2 separate regions of the Homo sapiens genome follow, and region 1 is linked to region 2. Evidence: fine-mapped expression QTL. Tissue or cell type: gastroesophageal junction. Region 2 holds a variant in brackets; the other region holds the start of a gene. All regions are shown on one strand. Distances are between the middles of the regions.

What was found. PIP is the estimated chance that this variant, and not a neighbour inherited with it, causes the effect.
Region 1: it holds the start of ADCY5, and the variant in region 2 is fine-mapped to the expression of ADCY5 in gastroesophageal junction (GTEx, PIP above 0.99).

Annotation. Positions count from the first base shown.
Region 1 is chr3:123,446,426-123,451,572 of GRCh38, reverse strand. ADCY5 (adenylate cyclase 5) reads left to right here and starts at 2,483. Exons shown (of 21, transcript NM_183357.3): 1 at 2,483-4,161. The coding sequence starts at 3,028. RefSeq lists an enhancer at 3,422-4,321.
Region 2 is chr3:122,984,302-122,989,448 of GRCh38, reverse strand. All of the region lies in intron 1 of SEMA5B (semaphorin 5B), which reads left to right. Among named protein-coding and RNA genes, the nearest start is that of SEMA5B, 41 kb to the left of the region's middle. The variant T/G (reference allele first, on the strand shown) is at 2,226.

The DNA of each region.
Region 1 (5,147 bases), 460 kb before region 2:
AGTAAATATTAATTAGTCCATCCTCCCTTTCTTAGACATCCTTCCCTGCTAGACCCAGGTTTGACTTCCAGGCCCTTGTTTGGCCCTCACAGTGGGAAGTGACACCCCCTCTCTCTGAATGCCCGAGGTGCTGTTTGCACTTCTATTGAACCCAGAACTTTGCTCTGACCTAGAGATAGTGGCTAGCTCTTCTCCGTCACTGACTTGTTCGACTTGTTCCCGGTCTAGAGTTTGGTCATCTCTCTATCCTGGTAGCAACTAGCACAATGCTTTGTACATTGAGGGTTCTCTAGAATTTTTATTGACTAAATTCATGTTTTTTTTTACAACTTGGCTAATAGTGGAATACTCAAAGGCTGGATTACCCAAGGGTTAGTTTATTCTGACCTCTTGGAATTTTTCTCCTCCCAATTTGTAACTCTGGCAAGGTTTATCTTCCAGTCTGCAGAGATGACCAGCAGAGAGAGACAAAGAAGGAAGCTCACTTAGACCTCTAGGCTCCCTGTCAGAAGCTCTGGGGAGAGAGTTGGAGGATGAAGAAGGGGAAAGTAAAAGCTGTTTACCCCCAGGCTGGGTAGGAGTGTGGTCTCCCACCTCTCCAGGGTTTAGACTGTCAGAACTCCAGCAGGACAGCTTGGGGGCAAAGGGAATTGGGTAGACACATCATTCTACAGGCCTACGTCCTTTTTGCCTAGCAGTCGAATCCTTCTCTCCATTCCTGCCTCTTGTGGCTGGTGCTGTGTATCTAGCCATTTTCCCCTTCCCCTGCTTCCCCCCAAGTGGGCACGCCAGCTTGCTCAGGTGCCCATCCTTCCTGCTAACACCTTGTTAGGTTAGGGAGGCAGTCTGGCGCTGACGAAGGACCTTTGGGTGCCAAGTTAGTAGACCTGTGTGACCTATAGCAAGTTGAATAAGCTCCCAGAGCCTCAGTTTCTGCATCTATAAGCTGGGAATAGCTACACGGTCTCTGTCCTCTGTCTCATCCTAGGATTACTGACGGGAACCAAGTGAGATTTATGAGACTTTACGAACAGGCAAAGAGCGCTTTATAAAAGCCAGGTGTTTCCAGTGTTCACTGTGGGGCTTTCTCCTGGTAACTACCCACCAAAGCCTCCCTGTCCGCCCCGCCCCGGCTGCATCGGCCTCACCCACTGCATCACCATCTTTTCCATCACTGTCTTCCTGCGTCTCAGAAGTCCTGTTTCTGCATCTCCCCTGTCCATTTCCGGGTCTGGCTCTCCGGCCCCTGAGACCCCTCCAGGGACTCTGTTCTCCTTCTCCTTGAGGCACTCGCTGCCCAGGCGCCCCCCACCCGGTGCGCCCTCCTTTGGCACAGCCGCCGGGCCAGAGAATCGCCCAATAAGAGCGCCGGACTGTAGTCTGACAGCTCCGGAAGCGGCCAATCGAGCCGGGCCAGGGAAGGGGGGCGCAGCGCCGGGGCTGAAGTTGGGTTAAATGGGGGGAGGGGGATTAAAGGGGGATACAAAAGAGGGGAGCTAGGACTGGGGGCGCTGGAGCCCTGGCCGGGGGCGGGGGAAGACCGCGCTCCACCCAGGTCTGGTGACGGGACCGCAGGCTGGATGCGGCTCCTAGTCCCAGGGAGGGAGGGGCGCAGCGAGAATTTTAGGTGAGGAAGGGGAACTGGGGTGCCCGCGGCCAGGCCTGAGGATGCCCGCGGGGCGCCGAGGCTGGGGCCATGGCCAGGCCGGGGGCGGAGGCGGCCTCGCGCGGCTGTGAGCCGAGGCCCGGGCGGCGCGGGGGGCGGGGAGGCAGCGGGAGGAGGGGATGCGGAGGGCTCTCCGGCGGCGGCGAGCGGGCGAGAAGGGAGGAGCGGCGCGAGCGGCCGGAGCGGCGCAGGGCCCGAAGCGTGCATGGCGCGCCCTGAGCCGGGCTCCCGCGGGCCCCCCCGGAGCGCCTCTCGGGCGCCGCGGCTCTCAGGCGGGCCCCTCTGGGCCGGCTGCTTCTGAGCCCCGGCGCTGGATCTCTGGATGCCTTACTCCCCGGGAGAAGCCTGCCTGCGTCGGGGCAGAACCGCGGCAGCGCTGCGCCGGATTCCGTCCTCCGCCTAGTCGTTCCGCGCCGGCCGCGGTGGGCCCGCAGCCGGCGACGAGGAGCTTGGGGCTTGCGAAGCGGGCGCGACAGCTCTCCGGGCCGGCAGGTCCCGGCCGGCCCCGCTCCGTTTGCGGGAAAGGGAGAGGCGAGAGGGGAAGGGCCGCACCGCAGGAGCCGGTCCCTGACCCGGACCCCGCCCCCTGCGCGGACGCGCCGAAGGCTCGGCTCGGCTTTCGCCGGGGCCACGCATCCACTCTCGCCGCGAGAGGTGGGGGATGCGGGCAACGGCCCCCCCGGGCTCCAGGACCCTCCCCCCCGGGGCTCCGGAGCTGTTGCTCCGCCCGTCGCCCCCTCCCCCGTCCTCTCCACCTCCCATCCCACCTCCCCACCCCTCGTAAGAAAATAATGCTGGCTGGCGCCCGCACCTCCCAGTCGCTCCCAGTCCGCTGCGAGGAAAGCGCACCCGCAGTGTCTCTTCGCCGGGACCCCCGCCGAGCCGCCCTCGCCGCCGCCGAGCCCCGAGAGCAGCTGGGCTCCGCTTAGGCGGAATCAGCGAGCGCCGCGCCCGGGCACTGCCGGCCCGAGGAGGCACCGCCCGCAAGGACACCACTCCGTCCCGTCTCGTCCGCAACTCCGGCCCTCGTCGAGCTCGACGCGAGCCAGGATCCCGGACGTCTCTCCGCGTGCGGCGCAGCAGCAGCCAGACCAGTCCCTGCGACCCCACCTCGGAGGCAACTCCATTTCGGACCTGGGACTTCTGACGCGGATCCTCAGCTACTTCTCACCTCGGGGCTGTGCCCTCCTCCTCCGCTCAGGACGGGGGTGCCAAGATGCCCCGCTGCAGCGCAGGGCCCCGGGCCGCCCCCGACGTGTGACCCTAGCCTGGTCCCCCTGCTCGGCCGTCCGCCCTCCCCTTGGAGACCCCCGGCCCGGCTTCCGGGGGAGGAGGAAGGAGACGACGAGGCCGAGGGGGGGATGTCCGGCTCCAAAAGCGTGAGCCCCCCGGGCTACGCGGCGCAGAAGACTGCGGCGCCGGCGCCCCGGGGAGGCCCCGAACACCGCTCTGCGTGGGGCGAGGCCGATTCCCGCGCGAATGGCTACCCCCATGCCCCCGGGGGCTCTGCCCGCGGCTCCACCAAGAAACCCGGGGGGGCGGTGACCCCGCAGCAGCAGCAGCGCCTGGCCAGCCGCTGGCGCAGCGACGACGACGACGATCCTCCGCTGAGCGGTGACGACCCCCTGGCCGGGGGCTTCGGCTTCAGCTTCCGCTCCAAGTCCGCCTGGCAGGAGCGCGGCGGCGACGACTGCGGTCGCGGCAGCCGCCGGCAGCGGCGGGGCGCGGCCAGCGGGGGCAGCACCCGGGCGCCCCCTGCGGGCGGCGGCGGCGGCTCGGCGGCGGCGGCTGCCTCGGCGGGCGGGACGGAGGTGCGCCCTCGCTCGGTGGAGGTGGGTCTGGAGGAGCGGCGGGGCAAGGGGCGCGCGGCCGACGAGCTGGAGGCCGGCGCCGTCGAGGGCGGCGAGGGGTCCGGGGATGGCGGCAGCTCGGCGGACTCGGGCTCGGGCGCGGGGCCCGGCGCGGTGCTGTCCCTGGGCGCCTGCTGCCTGGCGTTGCTGCAGATATTCCGCTCCAAGAAGTTCCCGTCGGACAAACTGGAGCGGCTGTACCAGCGCTACTTCTTCCGCCTGAACCAGAGCAGCCTCACCATGCTCATGGCCGTGCTGGTGCTCGTGTGCCTGGTCATGTTGGCCTTCCACGCGGCGCGGCCCCCGCTCCAGCTGCCCTACCTGGCCGTGCTGGCGGCCGCCGTCGGCGTGATCCTCATCATGGCTGTGCTTTGCAACCGCGCCGCCTTCCACCAGGACCACATGGGCCTGGCCTGCTATGCGCTCATCGCCGTGGTGCTGGCCGTCCAGGTGGTGGGCCTGCTGCTGCCGCAGCCACGCAGCGCCTCTGAGGGCATCTGGTGGACCGTGTTCTTCATCTACACCATCTACACGCTGCTGCCCGTGCGCATGCGGGCCGCAGTGCTCAGCGGGGTGCTCCTGTCCGCCCTCCACCTGGCCATCGCCCTGCGCACCAACGCCCAGGACCAGTTCCTGCTGAAGCAGGTAGGGGCCGACCTGGCCACCGGGACTGGATTGCGGGGCGGGCAGGCCTCAGCTGGACTCCAAAGAAAGGGATCCCACCCTCACCCTTTCGAATGGTGAAAAGAGCCAGAGAGACAGGGCTCGGCCATGTAGGCTATTTGGGAGCTTCTTACCCCACTCTGAGCCCCAGCGGCTTCATTTACAAAAAGAGTGCCCTTGTGTCGTTTGCAGTGTTCCTTGCCCCTTAGATAACGTGTACTGAACTGTAGCCATCACTGTGGGAATGCAGTGAGGAAGGTTGGAGGAGAAAATTATAAGGAGTGTTTCCCATCTCTTCCTGAGCTTCTGTTCCTATATACAAAAGGCCCCTAACGAAAGTGGCTGGACCCTCTAGCAGCCACCCCCTCGTGAGTGCCACTGCTGCTTTGTTAATCCAGCCCTGGATAGAGGGTTGGTGAGGGGACACCCTGCACCCCTTGCTCAGTGGTAAGGAGGAGGTAGCATGAGCCTGCCACCTGTCTAAGGCTGGGGATTTGGTAGCTGGAGATATCCCTGAACTTGCAGAAGGACTGACAAGTTTGTTTCAGTTAGCAGAGCGCCCCAAGCCAAAAACCTGCCCTTCGCTAAAGTGGGAAGGAGCCTCCGAGATGTGTGTGGTGGCAATTCCCCTTCCGGCCTGAGCAGAAAGCTGTTGTTGAACATCATGACCCCTTCAAGTGGGTGCCCCTGGTCATTGCTTGTGGTAGGGACATTTTATCCCTGCTGGGATTTGTTGGGTGAGTCTAGAACTGCAGGTTCAGGAAGAAATACAACTTTTGCCTGGTTAGCTGGTGACTCTCTTAAAGGCTTCTGTGAGAGGGGCATGTTGGCTATCCTGACCTCAGGGTGAGAGGAGCCCCCCTGCCATCCATACCATATCTCCCTTTAGTGTCCTGTGGTCTGGTTTCCTGGTCCTCATCCATGATTGCTTCTGAACCTGCTTGTTTGCATGCTGCTCCACTGTGAGA
Region 2 (5,147 bases):
TGGTGGGCCAGTCTAGGGTCGACTATGAGGGGAAGGTTCAGAGCCAGGACACTGCCTCTGCAGCCTCAGTGCAGCTCTGCACTTGGGACCTTTCTCCCCACAACTAAGCCTGGCAACATCAGGCAGCAGACCCCAGCTCACAGCCCTCCTTGACCCACCAGCAGCCTCTGTGCGGCTGCTGGGAATCTGCAGGGGCTCTGAGCCTCCCATCTGAAACTGATGGGACAAGGGGCCATCTGTGGACAATAGGAGCTTCTCATAAGTTTAGGGATTCCAAGACCAGTCTCCCAGAGCAGGGGTGTGGACTCTCTCCGAACATATGCTGGTTAGATGCAAAAAGATTGTTTTCCTCTAGCGGAGCAGTGAGAAAGATGTAGAGGGGACATTTTGGAGAAGAGGGACTTCTGTCCATACTGTGCCAATTAGCAACAGAAGCCCCACTGGCCCTCCCCAGCAGGTGGGATTACGCGATGGGATTCCTCTTAAGTACACTGATGGCAGAGCCTGCTTCTCCAGAGCAGAAGGGCTGCATTCATGCCTGCATTCATTTCTTTATCCAACTTTTACCGAATGCTTACCAGATTAGAGCTAGGTGATGTGTCTCTGGCTTCGAGGAGCTCCCAGTCTCGAGGAGGACAAGGCTGATTGAGGTGTGGTAGCCCTCACGGGCATGAGAGCCCAGATGAGGCGAGATTAATTGGTTTTTCTGGCCATTCTCCCAGCAGAGCTTTCCAGGCCCCACCCCAAGGCCTTAGGAGATAACAGATGTGAGGTCAAGTCACAGCTGGAAGCAGCAGGCTTGCTCCCAACTGCCAAGTCCTAGAGAGGCTTGTTAATCTGTGCTCCCCAGGGCTGGCAGGAGGCTCCCCAGTGTCCCTGAATTGTCCACTCTGTGTTAATTGCTTTCTGTAATCTGTGTGCTCCCTCTCTTCCTCCTGCTGCTGTCTGCCTGTCCAACTGGTTGCTTCATTCTCAGTTTCCCATTCCGCCCCTCCAGTGGGATCCAGGTGGTTGGGGTTCTGTAGACTTGACTTTAGCACATGGAGGATACAGACGGTGTTTGATTTTAGCTGGGTATGGGTTTTGTCCTCTCCCTTCTGCCTCACCTCCACACTGGGGTTTCATGCTAGAGCTGGGTGCCACACCTTCTTTTCAGGAAACCTGGCTGTGAGTTCCTGGCTCTGCCATTAAAACCCTATCGCCTCAGTTTCCTCACCTACAAAAGGAGGGGTTTTCTAGAACAGTCATTCTCCCTGTGTGTTCCTTGCACCAGCAGCAGCAGCATCACTTGGGGACTTTTTGAAATGCAGATTCTCGAGTCTCACCCCAGAGGGAGAATCAGGATCTCTGTGGCTGGGGGCCAGCAGCCAGGGTTTCTGCATGGCTTCTGGGTGGTTCTGATGCAGCTCAGGTTTGAAGACCACTACTGTTGCACATCTCTGAGGCCCCCCTTCCAACTGCACTTCCTTCTATGGCTGGTCTCAGCATTTTCCAACTTGCGGTAAGTAACCAGTGACTTGCAAAGATCCAGTAACCACATTCTGGAGCACTGCCAGCTATTTTGCAGGTATCATAAAATTCTCCAAATTGAAAAAAAAAATAAATTTCAAAAACCCAACCCCAACAAAACTCACTACTTATGTCCTGATTTTTCCAGAAAGGGATTCAAGGTAGTTTACATCCCCATTAATTTCAGTGGCTCTCTTCTCCCAGTCCCTGTCAGGAGGAGGCTGCAGAGGTATGTGTGCAATCCAGTGACCAATACAGGGCGTCCGTCCATAGCACACACCATGGCCACCTGAGAACCTCTGCTGCCCCAGCAGCATAAACACTCCTGCCCTTTCCGAGCCTCTGGGGAGAGTGGTGCCTCAGTGATTTTCATGAGGGCTCTATCCCCAAGGAGCAGAATGCCCAAACATCTCTCTCCTGCTGCTGGCATTTAGCCCATTGCTGAGTTAATTCAAGCAGTGCTAATAACCAGTTTGAGGGAGAGGACCTCTTGCAGACCCCTAAATCCTACTCAGTGGGGTGCTGATAGCAGGATAAGAATCCTGCCTGCCCACCTGCAGCCATTCAAAAACAGCATGTAAAAGGCCCGCCACTGGCTGGATTCTGTGGAGATACCAACAGAAGTAGAACTTTTGTCCCTGTCCTTTGTGAACCCACTTATGGGGGGGACAAGACTGCATCTTCAATGTTTAGTAGATTCCCCCCTCCACCTGCAT[T/G]TTTCCCTTCCCAGGACTTTACCCTCTCCAATCTCTCTCTCTCTCTCTCCCCTGCCTTCCCGGCATCACTTTACTGGAGGTCCTCAAACCCCAGCCCATCTGGCTCCATGGGGTTAAGTGCAGCATCCCTTTTTCCGCCGGTTCTGTGAGGGCCCAGCCCCAGCTGAGACCTTTCCTGGCCTTTCTCTGGTCTCCAAGGAGCCTGCAAGAAATGCAGCCTGAGAAAACAGCCTCCCTTCCCTTCCCCCACCTCTCTGTTCTTCTTCCCCACAATCCCGGGCCCCACACAAGCTCCCCAAGGCCTGCTAGCTCACGGCCGGGCCCTCCTAAACTCATGTTTTATGCAGGAACATCCCCATTCTCATGGAAAGTGCAGCAAAGTTTGGGAAAGAATTTCAAACCTCTTTTGAAGATGGTAGAGCAAATGCAGGGTTATAGGGTTAACTTCAGCTGAGAGTTTTTTCTTGGCTGAGTGGACACCCCCTTGGCAAATGAGTGCATGTTTGTATGTGTGTGTGTGTGTGTCTGTGTGTGTGTTCCTTTCTACCCACCATTTGCATTGCAGGGAAGTAGAGGGAAGACCAGCACACTTACACACCACACACACACACACACACACACACACACACAAATATGCTCTGGGCCTGCCTCATCTCCCAGTGCCCCCTCCTGCCTCTCTTGCCTTATGAGGAGCAACAGGAGTGACTTATCTTGGATTTAAACATTCTTTGGATGCACAGGGAAAAGAGATCATTTGTTTTTCAAATATTAGAAGGAAAATGAAAATTTGTATGCAACTTTGGTTTTGGTGATTTTTCAGAAGATCTCATGTCTCTTTGTTTCAAAATGTCAAAAATGGTTGTATATAATTGATTTAATAAACATGTAACTAGCTTTTTGGGTATATCAAATTGTATGTTGCAGTTTGCTCTGCTAATAATTTCAAGTTTCCCATTATCAAAGCACCTGTCCTTTCAGAAGTCTCGCATCCACTTTCTTCTGACACTTTTTAATAAGTAGGCAAAGGCTTGAACAGAAGAATCCATCTACAACACACTTAGAGTAAGACAAAGGACAGTATTATGCTTTCTGGACTTGGTGTTGGCAAGAAACAGAAAAGCACTTATTTTCAGAAAAGGAATTGTGAAAAGAAAGGAGAGGGAAACCTTTAAATCTCATTGAACACAATTTACTCCATAGAATTTTATCTAATCAGCCCCATTCTTTGAGCCATCACCTTGAGTCATTTTTGATTCTACTAACACTTCATTTTTATCATCTTCCCAGAGTCCTGAAAACTGAAGATTTGCCTAAATTGGGACAAGCTTCTCTCTCTTTTCACATGTTAATTTATTTCTTGATTTGGACTATGTTTTTCCAAATATGGCTCCATTTCTTTTCACATGTAGTAGAAGACGGAAGGGGCAGATTGGAACCATAGGCTGGCGTGGCCACCCTGTTGGGGGATGGGATTTGCTTGGGAGATCCCCTAGCTTTCTCCGAGCTCACACCTCCTCCCGCAAGATTCCAGCTATCTGCAGCAGTGAGCAGCTGGGCACTGGGGTTTGGGAGCTTTCTGGGGGTAGATCTATCAAATGCTGTGGCCATTCCCCTTTTACCTCTTCATAGATGTGCCTCCAAATCCTAGATCCAGTACTTTCACAGAAGCTGGAGTTGCTGGGGACAACATTTTTCTCATTTTTCTTTTTCTTTCTTTTTTTTTTTTAAGAGACACTGTATCACCCAGGCTGGAGTGCAGTGGTGCAATCATAGTTCACTGCAGTCTCCAACTCCTGGGCTCAAGGGATCCTCCTGTTTCAGCTAGGACAGAGTAGCTAGAACTACAGGCAAGTGCAACCTGCTGGGCTAATTTCTTAAAAAAAATTTTTTTAATTTAGAGACAGGGTCTTGCTATATTGCCCAGGCTGGTCTTGAACTCCTGGCTAGAAGCAATCCTCCTGCCTTGGCCTCTCAAAGTGCTGGGATTACAGGTGTGAGCCACTGTGCCTGGCCATTTTTCATTACAGTAATCCATTTTTAATTCCTCTGTACTTATAAGTGGAAATGTACTTGGATTCTCAGGAACAATTGATTTTTCTGTAGGTCATTTGGAAAGGAATGTCAAACAAGTTGCATCATTATATGCAGACGAAAAGATTGATGTAGCTTTTTTAACTTAAAATCTTATGGTGTAATTTTTAGGAATGGTTGGGGAACATAAAAATACCCTATCCTAGACACTTTATTCATTCTAAAAAGTTTTAGGATCCAGAAACGTATTTGAAATCGTGTATTTCAAAGAAGTCTTTGGGAGAAACAGGGGGAAATTATTTTTTTCCCCTGTGATTTTTCTGGGCCTTTACATTTTCAGTTGTGTCCCTGGGGAATTGCCTGTGTCAGACAAATTTAGAATAAAATCTAATTTCCTCTTTCCTTCTCTGAAGCTTTCTTTTTAATTACTTTTTTTTAAGTAGAACTTTTTTTCAATTTAAATTTTCCTTCAGATTCAGGGGATACATGTGCATGCTTGTTACATGGGTATATTGTGTACTGGTGGGGATTGGGCTTCTAGCGTACCCATTACCCAAATAGCAAACATTGTACCCAATGGGTAACCTTTGTCGTTATTCTTAATGAAAACTATTTGTGATGTGCCCAGGATTCTGCTGTGGGTTTTTGTTGGAGCAGAGGAGCCCCAGAGGGAGAGAGAGCAAAGAGACAAAGACATGGGCCCAAACAGAAGCCACAGACGGACGTGAAGAGGCATGGGCATATTGGCAGCCCCCGACTGACAAGCGACAGCAAAGGGGGGTTTTAGTGGCAAACCCAGATGCTCTCCTTCTGAGGCCACCCCTGCTGCCCAGAATGGGAGTGATAGGGTTAGTGGGAGGACCTCCAAACACTTTGCCAGGCTTCTTCATT